4 separate regions of the Homo sapiens genome follow, and regions 2, 3 and 4 are each reported to be linked to region 1. Evidence: microRNA targets listed by miRTarBase, many of them from high-throughput screens and not tested one by one. Region 1 holds a microRNA gene; each other region holds the end of a gene's coding sequence.
The links. Region 1 holds the annotated microRNA hsa-miR-103a-2-5p (AGCUUCUUUACAGUGCUGCCUUG, at 4,259-4,281, shown strand). A microRNA usually pairs through its seed, bases 2 to 8, with sites in the 3' UTR of a target mRNA and lowers its output. Matches are read on the target gene's strand: a 7mer-m8 pairs with bases 2 to 8, a 7mer-A1 pairs with bases 2 to 7 and ends in A, and an 8mer does both.

Region 1 (7,887 bases):
AGTATATGATCTTTTGTGATTACTTCTTCATATAGCATATGTTTTCAAACATTCACATTACAGTGTGAATCAGTACTTTATTCCTTTTTATTGCCAAATAATATTTCTTTTTTCTGAGACGGCGTTTTACTCTTTTTGCCCAGGCTGGAGTGCAATGGCGTGATCTCGGCTCACCACAACCCCCACCTCCCAGGTTCAAGCAATTCTCCTGCCTCAGCCTCCTGAGTAGCTGGGATTACAGGCATGCGCCACCAAGCCTGGCTAATTTTGTATTTTTTAGTAGGGAAAGGATTTCTCCATGTTGGCCGGGCAGGTCTCGAACTCAGGTGATCTGCCGCCTCAGCCTCCCAAAGTGCTAGGATTACAGGTGTGAGCCACCGCGCCCGGCTGCCACATAATATTTCATTACGTGGATAATACTACATTTTATCCATTTATTGGTTGATGAACATTTGGGTTGTTTCCATTTTTTGGTTATAATGTTGAACATTTATATGTAAGTCTTTGTATGTATGCACACACACACACACATATATATATATATATTTTTTTTTTTTTTTTGAGACGGAGTCTTGGTCTGTCGCCCAGGCTGGAGTGCAGTGGCGTGATCTCGGCTCACTGCAAGCTCTAGCTCCTGGGTTCATGCCATTCTTCTGCTTCAGCCTTCCAAGTAGCTGGGACTACAGGTGCCTGCCACCACGCCCGGCTATTTTTTTTGTATTTTTAGCAGAGATGGGGTTTCACTATGTTGGCCAGGATGGTCTCGATCTGCTGACCTCATGATCCGCCCGCCTTGGCCTCCCAAAGTGCTGGGATTACAGGCGTGAGCCACTGCGCCTGGCCTGCACATATATTTCTAATTCTATTGGGTATATACCTGAGAGTAGAATTGCTGAGTCATATGGTCACTTAATGTTTAATCTTTTGAGGAACTGCTACACTGTTTTCCAAAGTGGCAGTCCCATTTTACAATCTTAGCAGTTTATGAGCGTTTATATTTCTTGTCAACATTTGTTATTATCTGTCTTCTTGGTTTTAGTTGTCTTAATAGGAGTGAAGTGATATCTTGTAGCGTTTTTATTTTTTAAGAGGCAGGGTCTCGCCCTGTTGCCCACATGAGAGTGCAGTGTTGCGATCATAACTGGCTGCAGCCTGTGTCTCCTGGGCTCAGGTGTTTCTCCTGCCTCAGTCTCCTGAGTCACTAGGACTACAGCTGTGCACTGCCTTGCCTAATTTTTTTTTTGTAGAGATAGGGTCTTGCTATGTTGCCTAGGCTGTCCTGGCCTCAAGTGATCCTCCCACCTTGGCTTCCCAACATGTTGGGATTACAGGTGTGAGCCATCACTCCTGGCTGAACATTTTTTTTGTGTGTGTGGCAGGGTCTCTCTCTGTTGCCCAGGCTGGAGTGCAGTGACACCATCTTATCTCACTGAAACCTCTACCTCCTGGGTTTTAGTGATTCTTCTGCTTCACCTCGCAAGTAGCTGGGATTACAGGCACACCTGTAAATTATGCCAACATGCCTGGCTAATTTCTGTAATTTTAGTAGAGATGGGGTTTGGCCATGTTGGCCAGGCTGGTCTCGAGCTCCTGACCTCAAGTGATCCACCCACCTTGGCCTCCCAAAGTGCTGGGATTACAGGTGTGAGCCACTGTGCCCAGCCCGAACATCTTTTCATGTGTTTACTGGCCATCTGTCTGTAGTCTTTGGATAAATGTCTGCTGAAGTCTATTGCTAAGTTTTTAGTTGGATTGTCTTTTTATTATTGAGTTCTGGATACAAGTCCCTTATTAGATACATAATTCGCAAATGTTTTGTCCCATTTTGTTAGTTGTCTTTTCACTTCCTTGATGGTGTCCTTTGCAGCATGGAAATTTTAAATTTTGATGAAGTTAATCTTATCTATCTTCTGTCACTTGTGCTTTTGGTGTTATGTGTAAGAAATCTAAGATCATGAAGAATTGCCTAATTTAAGATCATGAAGAATTGTTTATTTTCTTTTAAGAGTTTTATAGTTTTAGCTCATATATATATATGTGTGTGTGTGTATTTTTTTCTTTTTTTCTTTTTTGAGATGGAGTCTTGCTCTGTCACCAGGCTGGAGTGCAGTGGTGCGATCTCGGCTCACTGCAACCTCCACCTCCCGGGTTCAAGCGATTCTCCTGCCTCAGCCTCCTGAGTAGCTGGGACTACAGTGCGTGCCGCCACACCCAGCTAATTTTTGTATTTTTAGTAGAGACAGGGTTTCACCATATTGTCCAGGATGGTCTCGATCTCTTGACCTCGTGATCCGCCCACCTTGGCCTCCCAAAGTGCTGGGATTACAGGCGTGAGCCACCACGCCCGCCAGTTTTAGCTCTTATATTTAGCTCTTATATTTGATCCATTTTGAGTAAGTTTTTGTGTATGGTGTGAGGTAGAGCTCCAAGTTCATTTCTTTTTGCGTGTGGATATCCAGTTGTCCTAGTACCATTTGTTGAAAAGATGATTCTTTCCCTGTTAAATTCTCTTGGCCCCTTTGTCAAAAATTAGTTGACCATAGATGTTTGGGTTTACTCCTGGACTCTTAAGTTATGTTCCATTGATATATATGTCTGTTTTTATACCAGTACCATACTGCCTTGATACTGTAGCGTTGTATTAAGTTCTGAAGTAAGAAAGTGTGAGTCATCCAACTTGTTCTTTTTTCGAGATTATTTTGGCTATTCTGGGTACCTTGAGAATATGAATTGTAGGGTTAACTTGGCAAGGTCTGTAAATAAGACAACTGGGATTTTAATAGAGATTACATTGAATCTTTTGGCCATCCTAATACAAAGTCTTCTGATCCAAAAAGATGGAATGTCTTCCCATTGATTTAGATCTTTGCTTTCTTTCAGCAGTGTTTTGTAGATTTTATTGTACAGGTGTTAATACTTTTGTTAGATATATCCGTAAGTGTTTTATTCTCTAATGCTATTATAAATGAAATCATTGTCTCCATTTTGAGATCGTTTAGAAGTACAATTGTTTTTCGTATATTGGGGCACATGGCTTTTACTAATAGAAAAATCATATGTATACATGCTTGTTTACTAAGTTTTAGGCACTTGGTCAATGCTGTTGATTTTCTGTTTGTAACATTTGCTCGTTGGTCATCACTTCCTTTTCTGATTGGAAAATTATTGTAGCAGTTCTGCTGAGCATGTACTTTGAAGTACTTTATCTTCTAGGGAAACCTGAAATTCTTAAGCAGCTCACTCTGGGACTCAGCTGTCTGTGCTTTACTCTGCTCTGATAGAGCAGTTTACCAGATGTGCATGTGGCCATCTGAGTGGAACAGCTGTGCAGTTGAGATGAATTGCTGTTAGAGGTGTTGTCCTGGAACTGTCTGGTTGCAGGAGCAATGGTGCCTTCCAGTGCATCTGATGAGATTCTAACTGAATATGTGAATATCTGGTATCCAAGCTAGATTTCAGTAGAAACCGCAGGGAAAGCTGTCTGCTCATTTAGAATGTTGGAGGGCTCTGTTTGAAGTTTGCATTTCTCTTTGAACAGATGCTCCATTGCAAAATAAAAGGTTTGAAGATTTCAACAATGTTGCCCTAAAAGCTAATTTTATTTCAATAAAGTAACATTCAAGTTCTGTTGGGCTTTGTTGCTGTTGGTTTAGCAATGGGATTTTTTTTCCCCCATCACAGCTTTGGAAACATGATGAGCAAGGAGAAGCGAGAGGCTGTCAGTAAAGAGGACCTGGCCAGAGCGACTTTGATCACCATCACCAACAACATTGGCTCAATAGCAAGAATGTGTGCCCTTAATGAAGTAAGGGGACATGGATTTCTTTAATTGCTCTAAGGAAAATACTGAACTTAAGTGGGCCCCATCACGTCTGTTTTCTCAGAACAGTGCCTAAATGTAGTCATTTGGGGTGGGGTTTGTTTTAGCACGAAGTTAAAACTCTTCAAATACAGATTAATCTTCTTTTTTTTTTTTTTAAACTGAAGATAAACATTGCTACTTGTCTAGAGGTAAAATGACATCTTTTGAGGAGAAAGTAGAGGAAGAGTGGAAGGTAGCCAGTGTTCCAGATATTGGGGACTGTTGGGGGTGATGATGGATAACGATGCTGAATGTAGACTCCACACTCACTGCTGAGCTCTAGAGGCCCTAGGGAGGAATCCAGAGGAAGTCACGGAAGCTGGGAGAAGACTGAGCAGGCCGAGGGGTGCCCTCCTTGGCTCCCCCACCTCAGCAGAGCTGCGTCTTTGTGCTTTCAGCTTCTTTACAGTGCTGCCTTGTAGCATTCAGGTCAAGCAGCATTGTACAGGGCTATGAAAGAACCAAGAATGGGCTGCCCTTGGGAAAAGAGGATCTAGGATCCAGTTGGTGCAGCTTATGGCTTGTCCCTGTGTGTATAGTTGTTAAATTATTCTTTTATTTTTATTTTTAAGAAGTTATTCTTTAGATAATAATAGGCATGTAGCTTAAAAGGAAACCTCAAAAGACACAAAGGATTTGTCTCATTTTAAATTAAAAAAATACTGTATCAGCATCAAGTAATTAAACATTTGTTGGAATATCATAACTTCTTTTTTCTTTATTGTATGTTCCCTTTCCTGTGCTTACGTATTTTCAGAAATTTTAGTTGGTGTGCATACCACAATTTGTATTTTATACTTAAATATACATTTCATGGTTGTATATTTATTTGATCAAGTTCTTTTATATCAAATAACAGAGCTTGGCATTTGGTTGCTTGCTCATAACTCGGCAGTAAGCATTTTTAAGCATGAAGTTATTCTTTGGTTGAATTTTATTCTTGATATGGGGCTTAGGAGTGAGATTTCTGGTCTACAGAAATGATCATGCTCATGAATTTTGACATTTATCGTCATGATGCTTTGCACAAGGGCTGCACCAATTTAGATCATCTTTAGCGGTGAATGAGTGGATTAATTTTACTACAACTACTGATGGTGGTGGTGGAATTTCAGTTGCTTTTTTTTGCGAGGTTAATAGGTCTAAAATTTTACTTTTGTTTGATGACTAGTGGTTTGAATTTTTCGCTGCCTGTTATATTGCTTGTATACTTTGCCTGTTTGTGTCACTGTCCTTTTGGATTGGAGTCATACTGTTTTTTTTTGTTTATTTTAACTTATCTGTATAAAACATTGTATTCAAAACTAGTTATTGTTGGTCAGATTTAATACAAATGTTTTTCCTAATCTGTTTTCTTCTCCTGTGACATTATCTAGCATGCTTTGCAGTGGGTCCAGAGTTGTCTGGGGATCAAGTTTAAGTAGCCCTGGACCAACTGGACTAAATTTGATCAGCAGTCAAATTGTTGCTAAGAGCTATGCACATGGTGCTGTATTTGGGGTAGCTTTTATGAGAAAATAGAAATTAAGATGAAAACTAATTGCCTTTTTTTGGTGTGCTCAGAACATTAACCAGGTGGTATTTGTTGGAAATTTCTTGAGAATTAATACGATCGCCATGCGGCTTTTGGCATATGCTTTGGATTATTGGTCCAAGGGGCAGTTGAAAGCACTTTTTTCGGAACACGAGGTAAGCTGACTTGTTCGTTGTGGTATATTATGTACACAGAGGGCTTGTGGGTCACACTGTCATGGAACTTGAGGTAGAGGGTGGAGGTGAAATGGGCTGCAGTGTTTCTTTTGTTTTTTGTTTTTTTGAGACGGAGTCTCGCTCTGTCACCTAGGTTGGAGTGCGTGGCACAGTCTTGGGGCTCACTGCAGCCTCCGCCTCCTGGGTTCAAGCAGTCCTCCCACCTCAGTCTCTTAAGTAGCTGGGATTACAAGTGTGCGCCCCCACACCCTGCTAATTTTTGTACTTTCAGTAGAAATGGGGTTTCACCATGTTGGCCAAGCTGGTCTGGTCTCAAACTCCTGACCTTAAGTGATCTGCCAGCCTCAGCCTCCCAAAGTTCCAGGATTACAGGTGTGAACCACTGTGCCTGAACTTTTTTGGTAGTTTAATTTCGTAACATTTGAAAGCTGTTTCTTCCCTGATACTAATGCAAGGTAAATTTTGGGTTAATTTAATTGTAAGCTTAAGGAATTTTAGAGAAAAACCCTTGAACATTCCCCTATATTTCTGATGCCATATTTTTGTCTGAACTATCCTCTATATTTTTTCTATTGCACTGACTGTGTCATTACTCTGGGTTCTGGTTTTTTCATTTTTTTCAGTGCCAGTTTTTATATATTGTTGTAATTCTTGTGCCAGTTATTTAAGATGCATGTTGTAAAAATGAATAGATGAGTAAACCTCTCAGACTAGAACCATACTATCATAAGAACTTAAGTACAATTGTAGACAGGCTGGAAATGATGAAATGGAAAAGAATCAAATTGCTCAACCTCATAGCCTGTCTTGGAAAGCACTCTTATTTTTCCTATTTGGGGAAAAAGAAGCAGAGGTATGGAAAGGCGTGTAGGGGTTCTTTCTTCCCTTCTTGGTTGTGGGGCAGTTGAACTATTCTTTCAACTGTTCTTGGATTTTAGATACTGTTATTATGAACATTTTTCAGAATTGTATTGCATATTTAGTTTAACAGTCTATATGAATTAAAGGAAATCAAAGTCCAGATAATAGCACAGATTTGAAGTGCTAGAGATTACTTTTTCCTTTAAAGTTACTTTAAGTTTTTCTTTTTAAATTGCTTTAGTTCATAGTTGAAGTCCAAAGTACACAAATCCCCATATCAAAAAGCTTAAAATTGAAGTCATCTAACTTAGTTTTAAAATTCTAACATTACTGTATTTGTAAACCAGCACCGAATTGCCATTAAGTTTCTTACAGTTCATGTTTCTGTATACATCTTTTTTTGTGATCTGACTTATTTTATTTTGCTTTATATTAGAATTTTTTAAACTCGAATGTTAGATCTTTTTCTGCTTTATTTCTGCCTCTTGTTTAACCTTTTCCTAGGTAGAACATGGAGATTAGTTTTTTAAGTTAACCTTAAAAAAAAAATAGGCTGGGTGCGGTGGCTCACGTCTGTAATCCCAGCACTTTGGGAGGCTGAGATGGGCAGATCACCTAAGGTCAGGAGACCAGCCTGGCCAACCATGGTCAATGTGGCAAAACCCTGTCTCTACTAAAAATACAAAAATTAGCTGGGCGCAATGGCGGGCGCCTATAATCCCCAGCTACTCGGGAGGCTGAGACAGGAGAATCTCTTGAATCTGGGAGGCGGAGGTTGCAGTGAGCTGAGATCGCACCACTGTACTACAGCCTGGGCAACAGAACGAGACTCTGTCTCAAAAACAAAAACAAACAACAACAACAAAACAAACAAAAACACCAAACAGGCCAGGTGCAGCGGCTCACGCCTGTAATCCCAGCACTTTGGGAGGCCGAGGTGGGCGGATCATGAGGTCAGGAGTTCAAGACCAGCCTGACCAACATGGAGAAGCCCTGTCTCTACAAAAAATACAAAAATTAGCTGGACGTGGTGGCACATACCTGTAATCCCAGCTACTTGGGAGGCTGAGGTGGGAAAATCTCTTGAACCCGGGAGGCAGAGGTTGCGGTGAGCCGAGATCGCACCACTGCACTCCAGCCTGGGCAACAAGAGCGAAACTCCATCTCAAAACAAAAAACAAAACACCAAACCGATATCATCATAATAGTTATAAGCCTTCGTGAAATTCTTGGTTGCATTTTGTCCTTATTGCTCGCTGACTTTGTTTTTCCCACTGCTTAGCTTTGCTGGTCCATTTGTCCCTGTGTTTTCCATTTGCATTCAGGCCTTTGACTCTTGTGTGCATCTCTGCCCTTGTGGAACTTTGATGATTATTTTATTTTATTTTTTTATTTAAGTTCTAGGATACATGTGCACAACGCGCAGGTTTGTTACATACGTATACATGTGCCAT
Region 2 (7,887 bases), not on the chromosome of region 1:
AACAATTCCACTTCAAACAAAAGATCCACAAACTTCTGGTAAATGGATTCCAGAACATAGATCACCACCACCAGAAATAGAAAATAAAGTCTCCTCTTAGGTATACATATTTTTAATTAAAAACGCTTCCTTACTGTTTCTCCCACTTCCCCTTTTGCTGTTTCTTCACACACACACACACACACACACACACACACACACACACACACGCGTGCGCACATACACAGTCGTAAGTTCACTAGAACATTTCATCCAGCTCAAAATTCTTACCAAAGCCACCTTCCTGCCTGGGTAGTGTTTAAAGCCAACTAGAAAACCCATATTCTTGAGATCGGTACATGGAAGAGGCATGTAAGTAACATTTTCTAGACTAGACAGGAGTCCCTCTCCATGCCAAAACCCCCATCATCTCCAGAATATATACTGTTTCTTTGGGGAAGCCATGTACTCAGAAATTAGGGTCCTTTTAAAGCATGCATATCTTTAAAAATATACATGGACATTGATCTTGCAAGCTTCTAGTTTGCAAGTGCTTCAAAATCTAGTGATGTCTCAAGGCAATGAAAGAATTTAGCTTCTAGAAGGATGAATGGAACAAACAATCCACTTCTGGATATTAGCAAAGACCAGTGGCTGCCTCTTTTGAGTGCCTGTGCTAAGTCACATCACGTCTGCCTTCTTCCCAAAGGTGCACCTGGCCACATGTGAGGTCCCACCATAACGTCCCCAGCGCGTCCTGTGGTTGGCTCTCATCCAAAATTGTCCCTGGTTTCTATAGAGAAGGAGACTTTTCTAAAGAAAAAGAGCCCTGTTAAAATAGGCAGAGCATGATGTTTCTGGGAGGCATATTCACTGTATTACGCTCCACCCTTTACTTGATGTTTTGCATCAAATGTAGTCCACAGCAGGCAGGCGCCTGCCCACCACCATCAAGGCTGTGCTCATGGAGCCTGCAGGCTGGAGACCAACTGCCCTCTGTGCACAGTCTTCCTGGGTGTTGATCAGGTCCCGTTCAAGCTGCTCCCACCACTGAGCAAGGCTGCTCCCTCCCCAGAAAGCCAGAAAGGAGTGCATCTCCAGGAAGGGGCGGGCAGTGGACAGGCCACCCCCAGCCAGAACTCTGTTTCCATTCCTGCGATCTCAGGGCCTCCCACTTGTTTTGAACATACTGCTCTGCCTCCACTAAAGCCATCAATAAAGAACTCAGGGTGTGTTTGTTTTCCATAGAACTGGCCTCACAGGCAGAGACATCATTTTAACCAACTTTCTTGGAAAGATTCCTGCAAAACCAGAATCATTCCAAAGTGGAACTTATCATTTATAACAAACATTCCTAAATGTCATTCGGATTCACATTTTTGTAAACTGTCCTTTGCTGTGGACACATATTGAAATAATATAATTGTAATATGCTCTTATCAGGATATAAGAATTATTTTCTCTTGGCACCCACGGGTCACCAAAGGGACTAGAGTGGCATGTCTCAAAAGATACTGCATCAAGGTCCAGGAGACCTGGATGCAGAGTCCACGCTGCTGGTCACCGCTGGGTGACCCTGGGCGTGTCACTTTCTCTGTCTCTACTTCCCATCTGCAAAATGCAGGTGACAGTCTCTGCCCTGTTCTCTCACCCAATTAAAGTCTAATGTGATGGCAGGCAGGAGAGATGAAACTGAGGGGCCACACAAGTTCGAGGTCTTGTGTGGATACTGGTTCTCTTTCCCTCCAAGGCCTGACCATACTGTCCCAACCTGTTGCTCTGGTGGTTTTACATTCCCCGGGCGGCACTAGGAAGGCTTCCTCGCCACTCCCAACTTTAAAATGCATCCAGCTGGGTCTTGACTGGAATGAAAGGTTATTTTTAAAGGTCCTCTTGGTTAAAGGGTTCCAAGTTTTAGTTGATCTTTTTTAGACACCAGGTTTCATGGAGGCAGAAGGAAAGCTTATCAAGGTATAGCAGCCAGTCTTGGAAACACCAAAATCAGGAGACCTCAATTGCAAACTGAAAATGCAGTCCTGGCCCTGCAGCTTCCAGGCAGCACAAGCGGCTGCGATGCTCACGAGTGAATGGCTTACATTCTGCCTGAGTCTGGCGTAAGGTTATGACAACAGTACTGAGACTGGGCTGGATGTCAGAATAAACGAGGGCACGTCACACCAGCTCAAGGGAACACCGTCCAGGTTGCTCCAGGGCCACTATTTTAAAAGAAAGTAAATGAAAAGACACTGAGATCTTCAGAGAAAAGCAGAAGGAATGGAAAGTTCAGTGCTTTTGTAAAAGCTGTTGTGCTTTCACGGCCAAGCCCAACTTACCTTTCCCTTTAAGGGAGTCCTTACTACTCTTAGCTCCAGGGTTGCAACAGCTGTAGAGCTGGACACACAGCAGGAGGAATCCAAGTTCCTCACCTGCTGCCCACAGGATGCTCACCACACTCTTCAGTGCTTGGTGAACTGGGATCATGGGTCTCAACTGCACAGCAGCCCACTGTGGAAATGGCTCTTCCAACATTTTCTACACCTCCACTTCTGGAGTTTTCTAAAGTCACTGCTATCAGAATGTACAAGTGGCTTCAGTAACTATTCTATGCATGTCACCTGAGCATTCTCTTGTCAGTCAAGCGGGCTCTTTCTAGATTCATAAGTCACCTGATAAAGGCAGAGGTCATCTGAAGACCCCAGCGGAAGGTGTTTGGAACCCAGTGTCCACTGCTCCCAGGCAGCCACACACCCAGCCTGCTGCTGGGCAGACCAGGCTGGCTTGAGAATCCCCTTATCCCGCTGCTGGGCCACGGGGCTGACTCATAGCCAGCTCGGCTCTCTGGTCTCCTGGTGCAGCCAGGAGGGAGCTGCTACCAACTGTCCTGAGAGCCGTCTGGAGCTCTGGGGAAAGGGAAGGGCCAGCAGCAGACTACCCCGAATCACAAAGATGGCTGGCCACGCTTTCCACTTCCTGTCTGCCAAAAGCCCTATGTACTCAACCAAAGCCCCCACTCACCTTGCGGGAGCTCCTCTAAAAGTGCCTTGGTGCTCCAGATGCCCAGCCTTCCCTTCCATCCACATCCCAAACAAGACTCCCCAGCTCAGAGAGGCGTCTCCGTGAGGGGAAGGGAAGGAGAGCAGGAGGACTCGTGTTCACCTTGGGGCCCAGGGCACCTGGGTTCGGACCCCATCTCCCTCCTTCCTCGGGTTGTTTGCTCATTAATCCAAATTCAGCAGGGAGAAAGTCTAACCACGTCCATGGGAGAAGGTTTCTAGAAGGAGTAGTCCTCTTAGGTGGTTCTCAAAGGGGTGAGGGGGCACCAAAGCCTCCCCCCTGCTCAAGGCATTTAGAGATGTGTGGGGCCAGGGATTCAAGCCATTATTGCCACACACGGGCAATCTCCCAGGGCAGGATGCCAACAGCACCCACAGGCCCGCTGGCCCCACTGAGCAGCTCTGTGAGAGAGGAGAGGTTTATGGCTGCAGTCCCTTCCCTAGGAGAAACTGAAAAAGGCAGGACGCAGAGCTGGGTGGAACACCTCTGTCATGAGGGCCAAGGCTTGTCAGCTGAGCTGCTCTCTCCCCCCGAAATGCCTGTGATTTCTTCCCAGCTGTCCAGACCCATAAGACAATCCTACCCTAGGTACCAAGCCCTGGGCAGCCCCTATACCTGGAATCCCTGGGTCACCATTCCTAGGGGAGAAGGTGATTCGAGGGTCTGGAGAGCCCCAGGGGCAGAGCATCACGGATGGGCTCCAGGGGCCTGAGACCAGCTCCTGCTGCTTCCCCTTCTCCCTCCCTGCCCCAGGGCCACCCGAGCCCCAGCTTGGGTTTGACCAGACAGTGGTATTCATGTCTGTTAACTACCCAGCACAGCAAAGATGGTGCATCATTCGACAGGGTCCCAGCTCTGCTGTGGGGTTTGATTAAAACACTAAATTCTGTGTACACATTTAATTGAACAAATATTTATTAAGCACCTACTTTGTGCCAGACATTGTGCTAGGCACCCTCACTGTGTGCTGTTCCCACAGCACAATCATCTGCTCAGAAATTAAAACCAAGAAAAGGAACACTGTTGCAACCGTACAAACTGGGGGGGCGGGGGGCAGGGGGCAGTAGCGTGGATGCAGGCAACTCCGGGCCAGAAAATGCACCCACCAGAAGCTTGTTTTCCATCTCTCAGAAAGTTTCCACTAAACAGTTGTTTTAAAGCCTCTCGATGTTGACAGAGAGGAATGTTGTTCTCTCTGTGCCCCCCGGGGCTGGTGTCTGGTGGACATTCAAATACTCTGAATGCTATTTGATAAAAGGAGCCTGATGGCTTGGTGTAAAGAATATCAATATTTGGATTACAAAATGCGTGTTTTTTCAGTTCATATGGTTGCAACAGCCCTTATGAAAGATATAAACATCCCTGCCCTGACTGCATAAATGTTGAAGGTAGACCTAGTTCTGGATTCCTGAGTCAGAATCTTCCAGTTGTCCACAACCTCACAAGGCCAGAGAAGCGAGAGGAGATTTCTATTCTGAAAAGGAGTGAGTGGACGGCACAACTGGTTTGGAAACACGACAAACTGCGCCTGCATTTACAGAAGCAATGCACACAGAAGAACGTCCTAGAGCTATCTGGTCTCGCACACACGCTTGGGACTCACGGGCGGGGCCTGGGCCTCGGCCAGCCCTAGTTATCGGTGCCCAGCTTGGAGAGCCCTCGGCGGAAGTCATGCAGGTCGTCAATCTTCCCGTCCAGCACCTCCAGGAAGCTCTTCAACTCCACCTTCAGGTGGCGCTGTCGGTATTTGCTCTCCTCAATGTCTGTCTTTAAGGAACGCACTTTGTCTTCCAGGTTTTGATTGTCTCTCTCTGCCGCCTGGCCAAGCAAAAGGGAGAAGGGTCTAGAAAACTGAGTGACGAGAGTCATCCTTCAAAACCTGCTACAGCTGAACCAACCATTCTCCATCCAATCTGAGGGCCTGGGCCAGGGCTTAAGCTGCCTAGAGACATGCTACCCCAGCACACAAGCCTGTGACCAAGACATCAGAAGGGAAGCAGCAGGCACTTCAGTGACCTCCTCCTTTCCTGCCTGCTCTCCCACAGAGGGACCAACACCCAGCCTGAAAACCCAAGACCCAACAAAGCAGGCAGAACGCAGAGTCCTGCCTGAGGGAGACCTCACACAGGGCCCAGCAGGGAAAGTCTGAAATCCCTGTCTGAGTGGCTAGCAGAGACCACATTTCAGTTCCATCCTGAGAGACAGAACAGATGGGAGAGTGGCTCGTTCCCCTGGTCCCACAGAGAGGCGTGGCCTCCTCAGCCCCAGGCCAGCCTCTGGCCCTCAGAGAGGAAGGACTGGCCATGCCAATGACTCAGGGACAGCCAGTCTGTGCACCCTCTGATGCTGTTACCATGGAGATGTTCTGTGGCGCTGGGCCCCACAAGCCTACAGAGGCACATCTAGGTAAATCACAAGCAGGTTCCCAAAGACAGGACAGCTGTGAGTCCTTAAATGAGCCATAAGCCTTTAACTCTTCATATCAAATAAGAGCTTTATGTTGAGGGAATAAACAGAGACCTTTCTGAACATGTGCACAGGAAGCAGTTACCAATTCCAGGGTCATGTAACTACATGAAGCGCCGTGTGCATATCAGAGGACCTGCAGGGAAGAGGCGCTCCGAGGTGGAGGAAGCCCTGAAAATCCTCATTTTAGTGATCAGAAATCTGAGGATAGGGAGGAAGGCCTGCCCAAGGTCAGTGCCCAAGGCCACTGGCAGGGGAGTGGCTGAAGTGGCCCCACACCCTGACCCTGGGCTCTCAGGCCGCCCCCCCGCTCCTCACCCCCACCAGGGATCTGCAAGGAAACAGTCGTCTACACTGTGGTGATGCACAGGGGCCTTCATAGAACTTGCAAAACCAAAAGACAAACGTTGCTGAGTCTGCCCCGGGGGCAGGGGTGGATGCGGTGCCATCTGGCGTGCAGTCACTGCCAGCTTTTTGTGAATAGAAAATCTCTCCTTCAGCATTCTCAGTGTGAAAGTGATAGGAAGCAGGAAAATGAGTACCATGACATTTGTGCCTTCTTGTCTGAGCCAGGATGGCTGTGCCCCCAACCCACGTACCTCTAGCTTCTCAGAGACATATTCGCACTCTGACATGAGCTGAGGTATGATTTCACTTTGTTTTCGGAGATCTTTCAGCTCCTACATGAAAAAAATTTGAGATAGAACATGAAAGCAAGTCAGATAAAATATATTCTTGAAAATCACCAATGTGTGCACGCTCGTGGAAGCAGCTTTGGGACCCTGTCCTGTTTGCATAGACAGTGATAGTGACCATGCGAATACTTCATCTCAGGGAATTTCAAGGGTGAAGTGTGTCACACGCCTTGTCACGTGAAGTCTGTACACACCACCACAAGGCAGATGTTTTTCCGATTTCTGTTTTATAAGTGGAGAAAGTGAGGCCTAGGGAGTTTGGTAACATGAGCACGGCCTCCAACATGTGTGCACTTAACTGTCTGCCCCCTAGAAAATAAATGACTGTAGGCCAGGCATGGTGGCAGTGAGTGCAGGTGGCTGGCGCCGGGAGCTGGGCTGCGGTGTGGTGGGCACGTGTGTGTGGTGCTCTCATGGCGTGTGTCTATAGTCCCAGCTACACAGGAGGCTGAGGTGGGCGGAATGCTTCAGCCCAGTTCAAGACCAGCCTGGGCAACATAATGAGACTCCATCTTAAATAAAATAAATACATTTTAAATTTTTTTAAAAAAGAAAATAAGTGGTTACATCATGGGTCTCTAGCGGCATTAATTTGGCAGCAAAACTCAACTTCTGAGGACAGATGACAAACGCATCTGAGTGTCTTGTGAAATGTTCAGCTCCCTTGTGGATCTGCACGACCAGCTATAGAACAGGGGTAACAGGGAGGCGGCAGAGGTCATGGGGAGGCCTTTGCTCCAGCCTGTCTGCACCTTGCTGTGGCTCCCAGCTCTCTCTCCGTGCTGCTATCCAGGCAGCTGCCAGGGCCAGTCATAGGCCCCAAGACACCTGCTGTGTGCCACCCCGCAAGGCCAAGAGGACGCCAAGGGGCCCTGCTCGGAGCACCATTACTCACTGTCTCCTTTTCTCGGAGCTCTGCCTCCAGCTCCTCGATCCTCCTCTTCAGCTGCGTGTTCTTCTCCTTCTCTCTGTTGATCTCACTGCATTGTTCTTCCAGCTCATCAATCTTCAATACACACCACACAGGAAAGCAGGGACGCCAGCTTAACATTAGTCATTAAGCAAGAGATCACCACAGCTATGCTTCTCTTTTCTTTTAAAATAAACCCTAAACTAATCCACTTATAAGATTTTCTTTGTGGCTATGAACAAACCCCATGCAGCTCCATCATGGGGCTGCCTGCACCGCTTGCATGGGACCTGCTTTGCACATGATGCCTTACCAGAGGCATCTTACCAGCAGAGCCAAATAAGTAATAAAGCCTGCCTTCAAGATGCTCTGGGCTTCTGGTTTCCTCTCATGGCCGTGAAGAAGTAGATTCAGATTTGCTTTAAGGATCCATCACAAGCAAGGGCCAAGTGTCCCCTGAATTGATCTGCTTTTCTCCAGAATGACTGTTACACCACTGTAATCACGTCCTGCATTATTCTGTTTCATCTCAAGGGTTTAAGCCAGCAGGGTAGAAAAATCAAGCAACCTCATGGTACAGTGGCTGCCGAAAAGGGAAGCAATGACATTTCGAATATTATAAATCAAGGTGACCTTCCCCTGGGAATGCACGTGGAAGGGGCCTGGCCTGTGGGCCTCTTCCCCAAGGCTGAATGGCAAATCCCTACACCGCATCTTTCCCTTTCCAAGGCTGACCCCTCAAAACAGTTACCTGTGTGGAACAGGGGTGCAAGGGCTTGGCAC
Region 3 (7,887 bases), not on the chromosome of region 1:
AACAATATATCATTCTTAATAAGTTAAAAAATCCCACAGCAACATTTGTAATATGTGATAAGTTTTTGATGATGAACATTGTTAATTAATAGCCAACAACAGTATTTATCTTGACCCTGTGGTATCTGGCTCGTCCCTCCTTCCTTCTCACTTTCTTTCTGTTAGTCTGGCTCAGAGTTAGACGGTCCTACGGGGACTGTGCTCCACTTCCTTTTCCGGAACAGGGAGTGGTGGTAGGGTGTGGGGGAGGGTTTGGATGAGAGTCAGGAATGGGACATGGCTCTCTGCCAACCACCTCCTCACTAACCATGACAGAATGAATGATGACACCAATTTTGAAATGACCCACCCACAGTTATGTCACCCTAGAAGGACTTTTCCCATAATTCCATTTCCTGCAAATACTTCCAGTGACCTGTCAGTGAAGGAAATTTCACTCTAATCAAAGGCTGACCTTTGACTCTCCCCAAAATTATTTCCAAGTGGAATAATAAATAAATGAACCCATTTCTCTATTCACTAAGCAGATATTTCTTGAGCATTTACTATGTCCTGGGCTCTGCGGGTACAGAGGTGAGCAAGGCAGTCATGGTCCCTGTTTGATCAGGGCTAGGGCAGTGGGGCTCCCACCAGCAGCAGCAGCTGCATTGCCCAGGAAATTGTTAGAAATACAGATGTTCAGCTCCACCCCAGAGCACCTGAATCTGAAACAGATGTGTTTTAACAAGAGCTCCAGATGATTCTGATGCAAGCTTGGAACCACTGGTCTAGAGGATTCCAGCTTACATTCTTCTTCTTGTCCCTTCCCTCTTCTTGGCCTCAGTTTTCTCATCATTAAGTGTCTGATGGTTTTGTAAGACTAATAAAATCTCATCCTGGTTTATTTTCTTTACAGAAAAACTATGCTTTGAGTTGGACTATGAGCCAGGTAAGGAGCCTATGTCAGGATGGGAGAGAATGAGAAGTCCTCGGAAAGGAGAGAAAATTTTGCAGGATTTGCACTATGACTATGTTATGACTATGACAATAGTCATAACAAACACCCATGGATACATATACACATCATATATATTATATATACACATATGTGTGTGTATATAATACATGTGTGTATATATAGGTTGTGTGTGTGTGTGTGTCACATTGTTTGTAAGGCTCTCAGGAGAAACATGAAGAAAGGACAAGCACATACACATACTACATTCGTGGTATGAAGCTCACATCCTGATCTGCGCATGTCGAGTAGATAGAAAGATTAATGCAGAATGGGATAAAGTCCATCTGGGAATGCTTTCTGGATAAAGGGGACTTTGATCTGGGTTTATAATCACCTCTTTAGAACGTAAGGAACCCCTGCTTCCTCTCAGATGTCATTTCACAGATGACAGAAGGAGGGCGGCCTGTGGGTGGGAAAAAAATGAACAGAATGGACCCCTTCAAGGCTGTCATTTCTCAATCAACCAGCCTAAGACCCTGGGAGTCACGGAGTTGTTGGAGGGGGTTCTCTAACCCACAGATGGACCTAAATTTATGGAAGCTTCTCAATTTATGAATACTAAAAGTAACAAAACGCAAGGCTCTGCAGCAGTTTTTGGTGGTAAAAAGTGGTCCTCAGACTCTGACAGTTTCAGAATTACTGAGGCAGAGTGAATAACCCAGGGGTGAGCCAGAGAGCCTGCCAGGAGGGAAGACTGTAAATGAGTCACCAGTGCCCTGGGAGGAAAACAGGGAGGAATCATGAAGTTTGGACTGAAGGGAGAAATGTCGCTGCACTGTGGGATAGAGATGGGAGGAGGGGAGAATGTGGTATATCAGCCCCAGGAGATCCAAGCTGGCACGCACAGCTTTGGAAACCAGCCAACTTGCGGTGAGCAGAAGAGCTTTCCCGAGGACCACACTGAACTAAACGAGAGCTTTCACATCCTCTGAGGCAGGCTTTTCAGGCTTTACCTGTGTGCAAATCACCTGGGCATCTTGTTAGGATGCAGATTCTGAGAGCGTATATCTAACAAGTTCCCAGGTGGTTCCACACTGTTGGCCCACGTAGGCACTATACATGTTTTTGGTAATAATAACACTAACAGGAGGGGCCCAGGGGGAGTTTCTATGCCTTCCTTGGAGGTAATAGCATGTCTGCTGACATCTGTCCCTTTTGGTTATCCCCACAGCTCACATTTCTCTAGACCCTCAGACTTCCCACCCCAAGCTCCTCTTGTCCGAGGACCACCAGCGAGCTCAGTTCTCCTACAAATGGCAGAACTCACCAGACAACCCCCAACGTTTTGACCGGGCCACCTGTGTTCTGGCCCACACTGGCATCACAGGGGGGAGACACACGTGGGTGGTGAGTATAGACCTGGCCCATGGGGGCAGCTGCACCGTGGGCGTGGTGAGCGAGGATGTGCAGCGGAAGGGGGAGCTTCGGCTGCGGCCAGAGGAGGGGGTGTGGGCTGTGAGGCTGGCTTGGGGCTTCGTCTCGGCTCTGGGCTCCTTCCCCACACGGCTGACCCTGAAGGAGCAGCCCCGGCAGGTGAGGGTGTCTCTTGACTATGAGGTGGGCTGGGTGACCTTCACCAACGCTGTCACCCGAGAGCCCATCTACACCTTCACTGCCTCCTTCACTAGGAAGGTCATTCCCTTCTTTGGGCTCTGGGGCCGAGGGTCCAGTTTCTCCCTGAGCTCCTGAGAAGGAGCAGTTACCTACTCTCCTCTAAGTACAGGACTCATATCAACCCAAGTACCATGTGGACTTGATCCCTGGCTGAATCACCTGGATGACTTGGAATAGAAATGACTGCTTTAGAAGATGGGATGGGGCCGGGTGGTAAGGGATAGAAGAGAGGACTCTCAATCTACTGATCAAGTCCTTTCCCCAATGCCCAGTGGATGGCCAGGGTACCTGGGGACTCAGGCTGCTGCCAGTTCTGCTCACCACCATCCGTGCTTGGCACAGAAGTAGCTGCATAGAAAGGGCACTGGATTTGAAGTCAGAAGACCTGGGTTCTTGAACCAGCCTGTCAACCAGTTGTATGACTTTAAACAAGGCATCTCACCTCTTTTCATCTTGTTTTCTTCCAATAATGTTAGAGTTCATGTAATCACATTCTCTAGAACCATTTAGTTTGTGTTAACTATGAACCAAGCAGTGTGGTGGCCACTGGTGACTTGAAAATATAGAGAAAAAAAAAACCTGCTCTATATCTGAAAGAGCTCTTGGGAAGACAGAGAAACATAAAGAGGAAATTACAGCACAGTGTGGTGGGTGTTACGGGAAGTCCAACCCCAGCATTATGGGAGTTCAGGGGAAGGGGCATAGCCCAGCCTGGAAGGAGAGGGTGAGTGGGGGATGGCTTTCTGAAAAGGGTGGTCTAAAGGATGCCTATGGTCAATAGGGAAAAGAGGGGAAGAAGCATCTTAAGAAGAGGAAACAGCAGAGAACTGGCTGGATGACCTGTGACTCTGGAGCACTGGGTTGTCTCCATTGTCATTATGGGCAGATGTGTGCCATCCCCAGCCGACGCCACTCACTGCCTCCTTCCTCCTGGTGTTGCCACTTCTGGGTGAGATTAAGGTGCAGGGCCTGGGGGCAGGAGGACATAAGGTATAGCCATAAATCATAACCCAGGGACCACACTCAACCCTAGGGAAATTGTCTTCCTGATCAGTTGATTACCATCTGAGGTCAAGAAATGAGATAGTGGGAGCAAATGGGTCACAAATAGCTCAGCTGTGGGCTCAGAAACTGCTAGGTAAAAGAATTCCAGAAGGAGGCCAGGGCATAAGTTGGATGACCTATGAACTTTAGTCTAAAGAATTGAGACTACCGTAATTGAGACTACTGTAGTGACATCTGAGAAATGGGATGGAAGAGTGACCATGTTTTATTTTCTTGTTCTTGTCACTATTGTATTTTATTTTGCATAATCATGCCCTTCACTGACAGTCTCCTTAACATCATCTGTTTACTCTGCTCAGTGTAAACTACAATGCTCTGTCATCTCCCTACTGGGTCTCCTGGGAGGAGGGGAGCCATCCAGGGTGCAAACTCAAAGGCAGAGGGCACAGCGTGCTTAGGCCCAAGCTTAGAATTCAATTGAGAAGTTCTGTTGTTCATCCTTACCTCAGCAGGTAGAAAAGAGGTGGAGATCAGAAGCCAGGGATTAGAGATTGAATTGCTTTCCCTGGGAGTGTGCAGTATCTCATTAAAATGTTGTATATTCAAAAAAATACAGACACACACAAGTGCCTATATAATGATAAAACATATCCAAAGCACCCAAACCTGTGATTCCAGAAAAGTAGATCCTATTTTTGTTTATTTTTATTGGCTTTAGCTGTGTCTTTTGAAAGGACTATTATCCTCTAAAATGTATGTGTATGAAGATCCTGGCTTGCAGCTCGGGAGCTTTACACACCTTGTGTCACTTTATCTTGGTAACGAGCCAAGATCATGCAACCAGTTCATCCATGTCTGACCCAAGAGCTCTTAACTGCTATGCTGCACTGCCTCATTCAGAGATAGATGCCTGCATGGGTCCTGGCGATTATTTTAATGCTGGCTACACCCCCACAGGTGACTTGGATTCAGAAATACAATTTATATTTCTTCTTTTTAAATTGTTTTATTTTATTTTTCTTTTAATAGTTATATGTCAGTGAGAACAATTTATATGTCTTACACTGAGAAATAAAACTGCTCATAAGTGAAAACACTCATGTTGGTCTGTCAGTACCTGCTTCTCCCCTAGGGTAATTTTACTTGAAGTTTACTTGCTTTCGGAGTATGGAGTCAGCACAGGGGAAGTGGATAGATCCTAAAACCTGGTAACTTCAAGATAAGGCAGCTTAATGAACCTCCTTGCTCTGCTGGCCGGAAGTGGGACTCTGGGTTCCCTCCCCAGGAAGTGCTCAAGTCTAGAGGCCCCAGAGTCCCAGCTACCCTTTCCGACTCTGAAGGACTGTTGCACATTTGTAACATCCACAGTTTACACCTCATTTTTCAAAGCTTACATGGTAGCAACCCTTTCTATTGCAAAGAACTGAGACCCACTCAAGTTAGTTCAAATGATAGGTAAGTTTATTATAAAAGCAGAAATAAGGAAAATGCGATTTTCCACCATGAGCCAGGCCCCGTGAGAAGCTATGTCAGGCGTGAGCGAGTTGGTGGGGTCACCACTCGTTCCTGTAGGAAGAACTAGAGATTCCAAAAATGCTGATAACAATCACACACATAGAACTTATTTTGGCCAAACACCATAATAAATATTTGTATATATTAACTCATTTAATCCTCACAACAACCTCAGGAGGTAGGTGCCCATCTTGTACATAAGAGAACTGAGACATGTGGAGGCCGAGCAGCTGGTCTCAAATCAGCTGATAGTAAGTCGCAGAGCCAGCATTTGAAGTCTTGTGGTTTGGCTCCCGAGTCTGTGCTCATGACCATTATGCAGTGGTATGTTGTATGCCCAGGACCTACCGGTAAGAAGTGGGCTCGAAGTCCAAAGAAGCGTGAAGACTGGATATTCCTGCGGCCTCTCAGCAGCATGGGTCATGGACACCTGTTCCAATACATCGTGGCTGCACATGCATCTCTGATTCTCTCTGTGTCTGCTCTTCTTGCCAACTAATGACACATTCATCATGGATCCCTTCTGAATCTCCGAGAGGACCTGATGGTTTCAGTTAATTACTATTGTCCCTCTTTGATAAGGTCTTCCTTGACAGGTGACCTCATAGACTTGTTTGGCCAATTATCTGCTGTTCAGACTCCCACCCCTGGCCTGATCATCTGTGGTGACGTCAGAAGGGACCAAGGGGGGCCTGGAAGGCATCTTCAGTATAACTGAATTCTCTCCTGAGGAGAGACCCTGGGGGCTGTCAGTCTCCTCCTACTCCTAGTACAAGTTCTCTTGGTGACATTAACTCCATCTGGGATGCAGAAATTGCTAGCTGTCACTTTCAGGGGTGTTCTTTCCTTGGCTAATGTCTTGCTCTTAGATTTGGGATCTTATGTTTCTCTGAGATCTGCAGCTTCTTGCCAAATAACTATACCTTTTTTCTGAACATCTGCACTAGGCTCTTTCTCCTCCCCTCTCCTTCCAGCCCCCAACTCTCTGTCCCAGTCCTTCTTGTGCAAACGATCCAGACTGGCTTTCATTAAACACCACTTCTCCCTTCATTCCTGACTCAGAAACCTCACTATGTCTTGGTGTCATCCATTTAGCCTGTTGACTTCTCGTCTTCCCCATTCCTGAACATTCCAGCCTAACCAGGTTGGTTTCCTCACACTCCTACAAAGGTACCGTGGCTTTTTCCTACCTCTATGCTTTCATTCATGTGGTTATTGTGACCTAGAATGTTCTCACCTTCCTCTCCCACTTGTCCAATCCCCACCTCCCCCACAAAACCTACCCTGACTTTCCCAGGCTCGCTGTTTCTTTCCTCTGAATTCCCAGGGCACTTAGCCTCTGTGATACCTAATTCAGTGCAGTTACACGCTCTCTTCTTATTCTGTAGCTGTTTAGTCATAGTTCCACAGCTAAATTATAAACTTCTGGATGGTGAAGTGGAATTTATTTAAAATTTTTTTATCATTCCATATTTCATTTCAAAAGGGGAAGTGGTTTTTTTAAAAAAAGATGAAATGAAAAAGGATGAGTTCATGTCCTTTTTAGGGACATGGTTGAAGCTGGAAACCATCATTCTCAGCAAACTATCGCAAGGACAGAAAACCAAACACCGCATGTTCTCACTCATTGGTGGGAATTGAACAATGAGATCACTTGGACACAGGGTGGGGAACATCACACACCAGGGCCTGTTTTGGGGTGGGGGGAGGGGGGAGGGATAGCATTAGGAGAAATACCCAATGTAAATGACAAGTTAATGGGTGCAGCACACCAACATGGCACATGTATACATATGTAACAAACCTGCACATTGTGCACATGTACCCTAGAACTTAAAGTATAATTAAAAAAAAATAACAATAAAGCCAGAATACACCAAAAAAAAAAAAAAGATAAAATGAACATATTTGAATGTTTACGTTTTAGACACTTTAGCAGACACTCAGCATGTATTTAATTTTGACAACAATCCCAGGCCACAGGTACCATAACCCTTATTTTAGAGGGGGGAGTACAGAGGTTCAGAGAGGCTAAGTAATTTGCCCAAGGTTACAGAGGCATTAGGTGTCAGGACCGAGACCTAAACTCAAGTCTGACCCTGTAGTTTTCACTCTTTGCACCACCACGTGGCTTGTTTTATAATTGTGGCCATGTTTTATTCCTTATACCTCTCAGTATGGTATTGACTACTTTGGCAAAGGCTCAATAAATACTGATTATAAGGTAATTGATGGCTCTTTTTAATCAGAGGATTGAGAAGAGCCCTTCCTTATGCTTTCTTATTAGTTCACTTATACATACATTTAAAATTTTACTGGACACCAGCTATGAGCCAGACACTGTTCTAGACATGAGGACACAGACAGAATATGATCCCTGCTCACCCAAAGAAGTGAGGCTTATACAAAAATGACTAATATACAATTGTATTCATTATCCATTACTCCACAAAAATTACCACAAATTTACTGCCTTATAACAACACATGGCCAGGCGCGGTGGCTCACACCTGTAATCCCAGCATTTTGGGAGGCCAAGGTGGGCTGATCACCTGAGGTCAGAAGTTCAAGGCCAGCCTGGCCAACATGGTTAAACCCTGTCTCTACTAAAAACACAAAAAATTAGCCGGGTGTGGTGGCGGGCGCCTATAATCCCTAGCTATTAGGGAGGCTGAGGCAGGAGAATTGCTTGAACCTAGGAGACAGAGGTTACAGTGAGCCGACATCACACCACCGCATTCCAGCCTGGGCAACAG
Region 4 (7,887 bases), not on the chromosome of region 1:
ACCCTTTCTGCCCTCAGGTGGAGAGTGTGACTGCAGGATCCCCACTCACCAACCAGTTCTATCTGGCTGCTCCCCGAGGTGCCTGCTACGGGGCTGACCATGACCTGGGCCGCCTGCACCCTTGTGTGATGGCCTCCTTGAGGGCCCAGAGCCCCATCCCCAACCTCTATCTGACAGGTATACTCACTGCCCCATGTTGTCAGGACCTGAGACCCTGGGCCCCTGTCGCCCAACGTCCTCTGTTCCTGCCCTCAGGCCCTGCTGTCCCCTGCAGCCTCCCATCCCCTGAGCAGGGCTGCCTGGGCAGGCTGTGGCCCCTGTCTGATTGGAGCCAGCTCTGGGTGGCCCTCATGTGGAGGGAAGAGCACCAAGGCCCCACCCTCCCCTGGGCCTGCCTGGGTGCACGCTCAGGGGCCTCTGCTCTTGCCTCCTAGGCCAGGATATCTTCACCTGTGGACTGGTCGGGGCCCTGCAAGGTGCCCTGCTGTGCAGCAGCGCCATCCTGAAGCGGAACTTGTACTCAGACCTTAAGAATCTTGATTCTAGGATCCGGGCACAGAAGAAAAAGAATTAGTTCCATCAGGGAGGAGTCAGAGGAATTTGCCCAATGGCTGGGGCATCTCCCTTGACTTACCCATAATGTCTTTCTGCATTAGTTCCTTGCACGTATAAAGCACTCTAATTTGGTTCTGATGCCTGAAGAGAGGCCTAGTTTAAATCACAATTCCGAATCTGGGGCAATGGAATCACTGCTTCCAGCTGGGGCAGGTGAGATCTTTACGCCTTTTATAACATGCCATCCCTACTAATAGGATATTGACTTGGATAGCTTGATGTCTCATGACGAGCGGCGCTCTGCATCCCTCACCCATGCCTCCTAACTCAGTGATCAAAGCGAATATTCCATCTGTGGATAGAACCCCTGGCAGTGTTGTCAGCTCAACCTGGTGGGTTCAGTTCTGTCCTGAGGCTTCTGCTCTCATTCATTTAGTGCTACGCTGCACAGTTCTACACTGTCAAGGGAAAAGGGAGACTAATGAGGCTTAACTCAAAACCTGGGCGTGGTTTTGGTTGCCATTCCATAGGTTTGGAGAGCTCTAGATCTCTTTTGTGCTGGGTTCAGTGGCTCTTCAGGGGACAGGAAATGCCTGTGTCTGGCCAGTGTGGTTCTGGAGCTTTGGGGTAACAGCAGGATCCATCAGTTAGTAGGGTGCATGTCAGATGATCATATCCAATTCATATGGAAGTCCCGGGTCTGTCTTCCTTATCATCGGGGTGGCAGCTGGTTCTCAATGTGCCAGCAGGGACTCAGTACCTGAGCCTCAATCAAGCCTTATCCACCAAATACACAGGGAAGGGTGATGCAGGGAAGGGTGACATCAGGAGTCAGGGCATGGACTGGTAAGATGAATACTTTGCTGGGCTGAAGCAGGCTGCAGGGCATTCCAGCCAAGGGCACAGCAGGGGACAGTGCAGGGAGGTGTGGGGTAAGGGAGGGAAGTCACATCAGAAAAGGGAAAGCCACGGAATGTGTGTGAAGCCCAGAAATGGCATTTGCAGTTAATTAGCACATGTGAGGGTTAGACAGGTAGGTGAATGCAAGCTCAAGGTTTGGAAAAATGACTTTTCAGTTATGTCTTTGGTATCAGACATACGAAAGGTCTCTTTGTAGTTCGTGTTAATGTAACATTAATAAATTTATTGATTCCATTGCTTTAACATTTGAAATTTATTTTGGTTTTTTGTTCAAGAAAACAAAACTATTATTGTGATGGCATTTGCAGAAGCTCAGTAAAACACTATATACTGAATAACACCAAAATAAGCTTTAAAAAAATAAAATTAAGTAATTATAAAGTTACAAAAAGTGGGGTCTGCGCCTTCCCAGGCCAGTGTGCTGAGCTCTCCATGTCGCTGTTGCCGCCCGCACCTGGCCTACCGCGGCACTCCCGGCTGCATGCTCTGCTTGGCCTTGCCATGCCGGTGGACCTCAGCAAGTGGTCCGGGCCCTTGAGCCTGCGAGAAATGGACGAGCGGTCACAGCACCTGCTGCATGTCACCTACGCCCGGGCGGTGGTGGACGAGCTGGGCAAAGTGCTGACGCCCACCCAGGTTAAGAATAGACCCACCAGCATTTAGTGGGATGGTCTTGATTCAGGGAAGCTCTACACCTTGGTCCTGACAGACCCTGATGCTCCCAGCAGGAAGGATCCCAAATACAGAGAATGGCATCATTTCCTGGTGGTCAACATGAAGGGCAATGACATCAGCAGTGACACACTCCTCTCCGATTATGTGGGCTCGGGGCCTCCCAAGGGCACAGGTCTCCACCGCTATGTCTGGCTGGTTTATGAGCAGGACAGGCCACTAAAGTGTGACGAGCCCATCCTCAGCAACCGATCTGGAGACCACCGTGGCAAATTTGAGGTGGTGTCCTTCCGTAAAAAGTACGAGCTCGGGGCCCCGGTGGCTGGCACGTGTTACCAGGCTGAGTGGGACGACTATGTGCCCAAACTGTACGAGCAACTCTCTGGGAACTAGTGGGTTAGCTTGGGGACCTGAACTGTTCTGGAGGCCCCAAGCCATGTTCCCCAGTTCAGTGTTGCATGTATAATAGGTTTCTCCTCTTCCTGCCCCCCTTGGCACAGGTGAGACCTGACCAGTCAGATGGTGGTTGAGGGTGACTTTTCCTGCTGCCTGGCCTTTATAATTTTACTCACTCACTCTGATTTATGTTTTGATCAAATTTGAACTTCATTTTGGGGGATATTTTGGTACTGTGATGGGGTCATCAAATTGTTAATCTGAAAATAGCAACCCAGAATGTAAAAAAGAAAAAACTAGGGGGAAAAAACCAGGTCTACAGTGATAGAGCAAAGCATCAAAGAATCTTTAAGGAAGGTTTTAAAAAAAAAAAGATTGGTTGCCTCTGCCTTTGTGATCCTGAGTCCAGAATGGTACACAATGTGTTTTTATGGTGATGTCACTCACCTAGACAACCAGAGGCTGGCATTGAGGCTAACCCCCAACACGGTGCATCTCAGATGCCTCAATAGGCATCAGTATGTCGCTCTGGTCCCTTTAAAGAGCAATCCTGGAAGAAGCAGGAGGGAGAGTGGCGCTGCTGTTGTTGGGACATGGCCATCTAGACCGGCAGCAGCGCTCGCTGACAGCTTGGGAGGAAACCTTAGATCGGTGTTTGTTAAACTGATCATTCTTCACGGGAGTAAGAAAAGCTGGTCTGGAGTTGCTGAACATTGCATTAATTGTGCTGTTTGCTTATAGTTGAATAAAAATAGAAACCTGAATGAAAAAAAAAGTTACAAAAAGTGGCCATCTACCGACTGGGCAAACAAAAAAGAACAGTTTCAACACTCAGTCATTTATTGCACATGGAGTCTGATGAATTAAAAGAATACCAATCAGAGTGTCCGGGGCTGGCGTGTTGGCAGTTTGAAGTACCATACAGCTCAGGGCTGGGTGCTTTGGCTCATGCCTGTAATCCCAGCACTCTGGGAGGCCAAGGCAGGTAGATTGCTTGAGCTCAGGAGTTCAAGACCAGTCTGAGCAACATGGCAAGACCCTGTCTCTATAGAAAGTCCCCACCCCACCCCCAGAAAAATTAGCTGGGCATGGTGGTGTGCCCCTGTAGTCCCAGCTATTCAGGAGGCTGAGGTGGGAGGATCACTTGAGCCCGGGAGGTGGAGGTTGCAGTGAGCCAAGATTGTGACACTGCACTCCAGCCTGAGCAAGAGAGTGGGACCCCGTCTCAAAACAAAACAAACAAAAAAGACCAAACATATAGCTCAGACCCAAACCCTTTACAGAGGAGTTTCTAAATTGGGAGATTTGGCTAAATACAATGGCTCATGTCTGTAATCCCAGTATTTTGGGAGGCTGAGGTGGGATGATTGTTTGAACCCAGGAGTTTGAGGCTGCAGTGAGCTGTGATCACTGCACTCCAGCCAGAGTGACAGAACGAGACCCTCCTCTAAAAAAACAAAACAAAACAAAACAAATAAACAAATTGGGAGATTTGGTAAATTCACACCTGACCTGTAGAACTACCTGAGTTGAGAGTCACCCTTGGCTCTGGATGTACCGTTTAATTGCAGCTAAAAATCTCTACCCAGGATTCCTACTGGAGCAAGTCACACCGAGCCCAACCTTCCTAGCAAGAGTTTTCACAGCGTTCTAGCTCTCATCACACTTGCAGCATTCTGCATCAGTTTACCCTGTACAGTCAAGCACAAAAGAAGACACCAGCATCACCAGCAGGGGAATTCTAGAGGTTTAGAATTCTATCAGCACATGTGTCACTAAAAGCCATTATGGGGGGACTATGTCAGAATATATGTAACTAGCTGTCAGGTCTTTCCCAGTTGCCTCAGCCTTTCTACATAGACTGGTCTTCGACTTGCCCTGAGTCCAGAAGTGGACTCTTACAGCAATTTTACTCAGGAATCTGTAGCAGGAAAACAGGTTCCTCTATTAACATCCATGACTGAACCACAGATTCGTCTAATAGAAATCACACTTCACCGGGCGTGGTGGCTCACGCCTGTAATCCCAGCACTTTGGGAGCCGGGGCAGGCAGACCACCTGAAGTCGGGAGTTCAAGACCAGCCTGACCAACATGGAGAAACCCCGTCTCTACTAAAAATGCAAAATTAGCCAGGCGTGGTGGTGCATGCCTGTAGTCCCAGCTACTCGGGAGGCTGAGGCTGGAGAATTGCTTGAACCAGGGAGGTTGTGGTGAGCTGAGATCGTGCCGTTGTGCTCCAGCCTGGGCAAGAGCGAAACTCCGTCTCAAAAAAAAAAAAAAAAAAAAAAAAAAATTCACCCTTCAACCAAAAGCTGGGCGCAGAAAGGGAAGCCCTTAGCTGACTATAGGAGGTGCCTCTTGTGGCTCCTCGTGCTTCTTACACACCACCCCTAGCTTGAGTGATGCCTCAGCCAGCTCACCCTCATCCACACAATCTCTAGGAAACATGCTTCGAATATTGTCTTTGAAAAGACAACCATGCAGAAAATAAGCTTTCCTTTAGTGTGCAGTATTTTATTCAGTGCAATTCTAAAGGCAAACTTGAATTCAAGTGTACTCTTTCTGCACAAGAAATGAAACTTCTCAGAGGTTCAAAAGCTGAGCTCTGCGGACTCCGTGACAAAATCTACACATCCACTGCCAACCCTCTTGGTTTCTGAAACCAACCTTTCTTCCTGCTGTCCTCTTTAAGAGCAAAACCCAACATGTATAAGGTCAGAGCAAGTGGTAGCCAGGAAAAGCTTGGGGACCTCTATCATATCCAGAGGGCATGAAGAAAGAAAACACGTCCTCTGCCAAAGGCAAAATGGAGTTTGTGAAGCAGGAGTGGTGGCTCATGCCTGTAATCTCAGCATTTTGGGAGGCCGAGGCGGCCAATCATCTGAGGTCAGGAGTTCGAGGCCAGCCTGGCCAACATGGCAAAACCTCGTGTGTGTGTAGAGATGGGGTCTTGCTATGTTTCCCAGGCTGATCTCAAACTCCTGGGCTCAAGCAATCCTCCTACCTGCAGACCTCCCTAAATGCTGGGATTACAAGTGTGAGCCATCATGCCTGGCCCCACAAAATGATTTTTAAAGTCAGTTAGAAATCAAACATACACTAGAAAGAAATACACTTGATGGAGAGATGGGAATCCTGACTCTGCTTCACACTGTTCTGTATTATTTTGCATTATTTACATGTAGTTTTTTTTCCCCCAAATTGAAAGAAAAGTTATAATGAAGAGGGGAAACTCCTTAAGGCTGATTATCTGAGAAGCTAGCAGTCCAGCGCTAAATTGTGAAGCTGACCTCTTGAGGTAGTTAACAAAGATGTTTCTCTTTATGTCTTTTTGCCAGTAGCACACTGCCCTAATTACTCCAGCTTTTTGGTGAGTTTTGAAACTGGGAAGTGTGAATTCTTCAGCTTTGTTCTTTTCCACGTCTGTTTTTGCTTTTGTATGCCTCTTGCATTTCCATATGTATTGTGGAATCTGCTTGTCGATTCTGCACCAAGCCAGCTGGAATCTTAATAGACACTGTGTTTAATAGAGACTGGGTGTAGACCAATTTGGGGAGCATAGCCATGTTAACAAAACTCTGTCTTCCAATCCATGAATATAGGCTATCTTTCCATTTCTTTAGGTCTTCTTTAATTTCTTTCAACGTTTTGTAGTTTTCACAACACAAATTTTGCAATTCTTTGGTTAAATTTATTTCTATGGATTTTTTTATACTATTCACAAATGCAATTATTTCTTATTTCATTTTCAGATTGTCCATTGCAAAGTTATAGAAATATAGTTGATTTCTGTATGTTGATCTCAAAGGATGTGGAGAAAATAAACAATGGAAAACAAGGAGATAGTGTCCCAGAAGATAAGTGACCTGACTAGGTATAGCACTAAAGGCCTGCAAGGCAAACATTTTACATAAGGTTTTCTTTTGGCTTTTTTTTTGAGACGAAGTCTCACTCTGTTGCCTAAGCTGGAGGGCAGCGGCGAGATCACGGCTCACTACAACCTCCACCTCCTGGGTTCAAGTGATTCTCCTGCCTCAGCCTCCCAAGTAGCTGGGAATACAGGCGCACACCACCATGCCCGGCTAATTTCTGTATTTTTAGTAGAGACGGGGTTTCACTATTTTGGCCAGGCTGGTCTTGAACTCCTGACCTCGCGATCCTCCCGCCTTGGCCTCCCAAAGTGCTGGGATTACAGGTGTGAGCCACTGTGCCTGGCCTGTTTTGTTTTTTTTTAGACAGAATCTCGCCCTGTTGCCCAGGCTGGAGGGCAGTGGCAGGATCTTGGCTCACTGCAGCCTCTGCCTCCTGGGTTCAAGCGATTCTTGTGTCTCAGCCTCCAGAGTAGCTGGGATTACAGGCACCTGCCACCATGCCCGGCTAATTTTTGTATTTTTAGCAGAGACGGGGTTTCACCATGTTGGCCAGGCTGGTCTCGAACTCCTGACCTCAAGTGATCCACTGCCTCGGCCTCCCAAAGTGCTGGGATTACAGGTGTGAGCCACTGTGCCCAGCCAACATATGGGTTTATAACTTGCTTTATTTTTGGTTAACAATCATATGCACATATTACTATAGGAAAGGAGGACCAACAAAATATTCATGATAATAGCTCTGGATTAAGAATATTTTTCTGGCCAGGTGTGGTGGCTCATATGTGTAATTGCAGCACTTTGGGAGGCTGAGGTGGGAGGATTGCTTGAGCCCAGGAGTTCAAGACCAGCCTGGGCAACATAGTTCAAGACCAGCCTGGGCAATAGTCTGTCTCTACAAAAAGTTTAAAAATTAGCTAGGTGTGGTGGCATGCACCTGTAGTCCCAGCTACTTGGGAGGCTGAGGTGGGAGGATTACCTGAGCCTGGGAGGTCAAGGCTGCAGTGAGCTATGGTCGGTCTCAAAAAAAAAAAAAAAAAAAAGAAAAAAAAAGAAATATCTTTCTTACTTTGGTTCATCTTTGTTTTATAATTTTTCTATAATTAACATATTACAGTAATAATTTTAGAGCATTATATGCTACATATGGTGTTAAACACTATATTTTACATGAATAATCTAATTCTTAACATTTTAATTTCCATTTCATAGTGAAGAAACAGGCTAGGCGTGGTGGCATACACCTGTAATCTCAGCACTTTGGGAGGCCAAGGTGGGCGGATCACTTGAGGTCAGGAGTTTGAGACCAGCCTGGCCAACATGGTGAAACCCTGTCTCTACTAAAAATACAAAAATTAGCTGGGTGTGGCGGCACACACCTGTAGTCCCAGCTACTTGGGAGGCTGAGGCATGAGAATTGCTCAAATCCAGGACGTAGAGGTTGCAGTGTGCCAAGATCACACCACTGCACTC

Region 2: miRTarBase lists HOMER2 as a target of hsa-miR-103a-2-5p. The part of its 3' UTR that is shown has no 7-base or 8-base seed match.
Region 3: the mRNA of TRIM10 is a reported target of hsa-miR-103a-2-5p. Seed matches in the 3' UTR shown: 8mer at 3,405-3,412.
Region 4: miRTarBase lists RETSAT as a target of hsa-miR-103a-2-5p. The part of its 3' UTR that is shown has no 7-base or 8-base seed match.

What each region holds. Positions count from the first base shown.
Region 1 is chr20:3,913,246-3,921,132 of GRCh38, forward strand. It overlaps MIR103A2 (microRNA 103a-2), which reads left to right and starts at 4,249; the gene lies at 4,249-4,326. It overlaps PANK2 (pantothenate kinase 2), which reads left to right. Exons shown (of 7, transcript NM_001386393.1): 5 at 3,682-3,805; 6 at 5,426-5,551. It overlaps MIR103B2 (microRNA 103b-2), which reads right to left and starts at 4,318; the gene lies at 4,257-4,318.
Region 2 is chr15:82,845,053-82,852,939 of GRCh38, forward strand. It overlaps HOMER2 (homer scaffold protein 2), which reads right to left. Exons shown (of 9, transcript NM_004839.4): 7 at 7,090-7,200; 8 at 6,099-6,179; 9 at 3,931-4,851. The coding sequence ends at 4,663. Among named protein-coding and RNA genes, the nearest start is that of WHAMM, 39 kb to the left of the region's middle. RefSeq lists an enhancer at 4,749-5,524.
Region 3 is chr6:30,148,768-30,156,654 of GRCh38, reverse strand. It overlaps TRIM10 (tripartite motif containing 10), which reads left to right. Exons shown (of 7, transcript NM_006778.4): 6 at 896-928; 7 at 2,169-4,712. The coding sequence ends at 2,686. Among named protein-coding and RNA genes, the nearest start is that of TRIM10, 8.5 kb to the left of the region's middle.
Region 4 is chr2:85,335,929-85,343,815 of GRCh38, reverse strand. It overlaps RETSAT (retinol saturase), which reads left to right. Exons shown (of 11, transcript NM_017750.4): 10 at 18-177; 11 at 435-1,861. The coding sequence ends at 574. It also overlaps the pseudogene PEBP1P2. Among named protein-coding and RNA genes, the nearest start is that of TGOLN2, 12 kb to the right of the region's middle.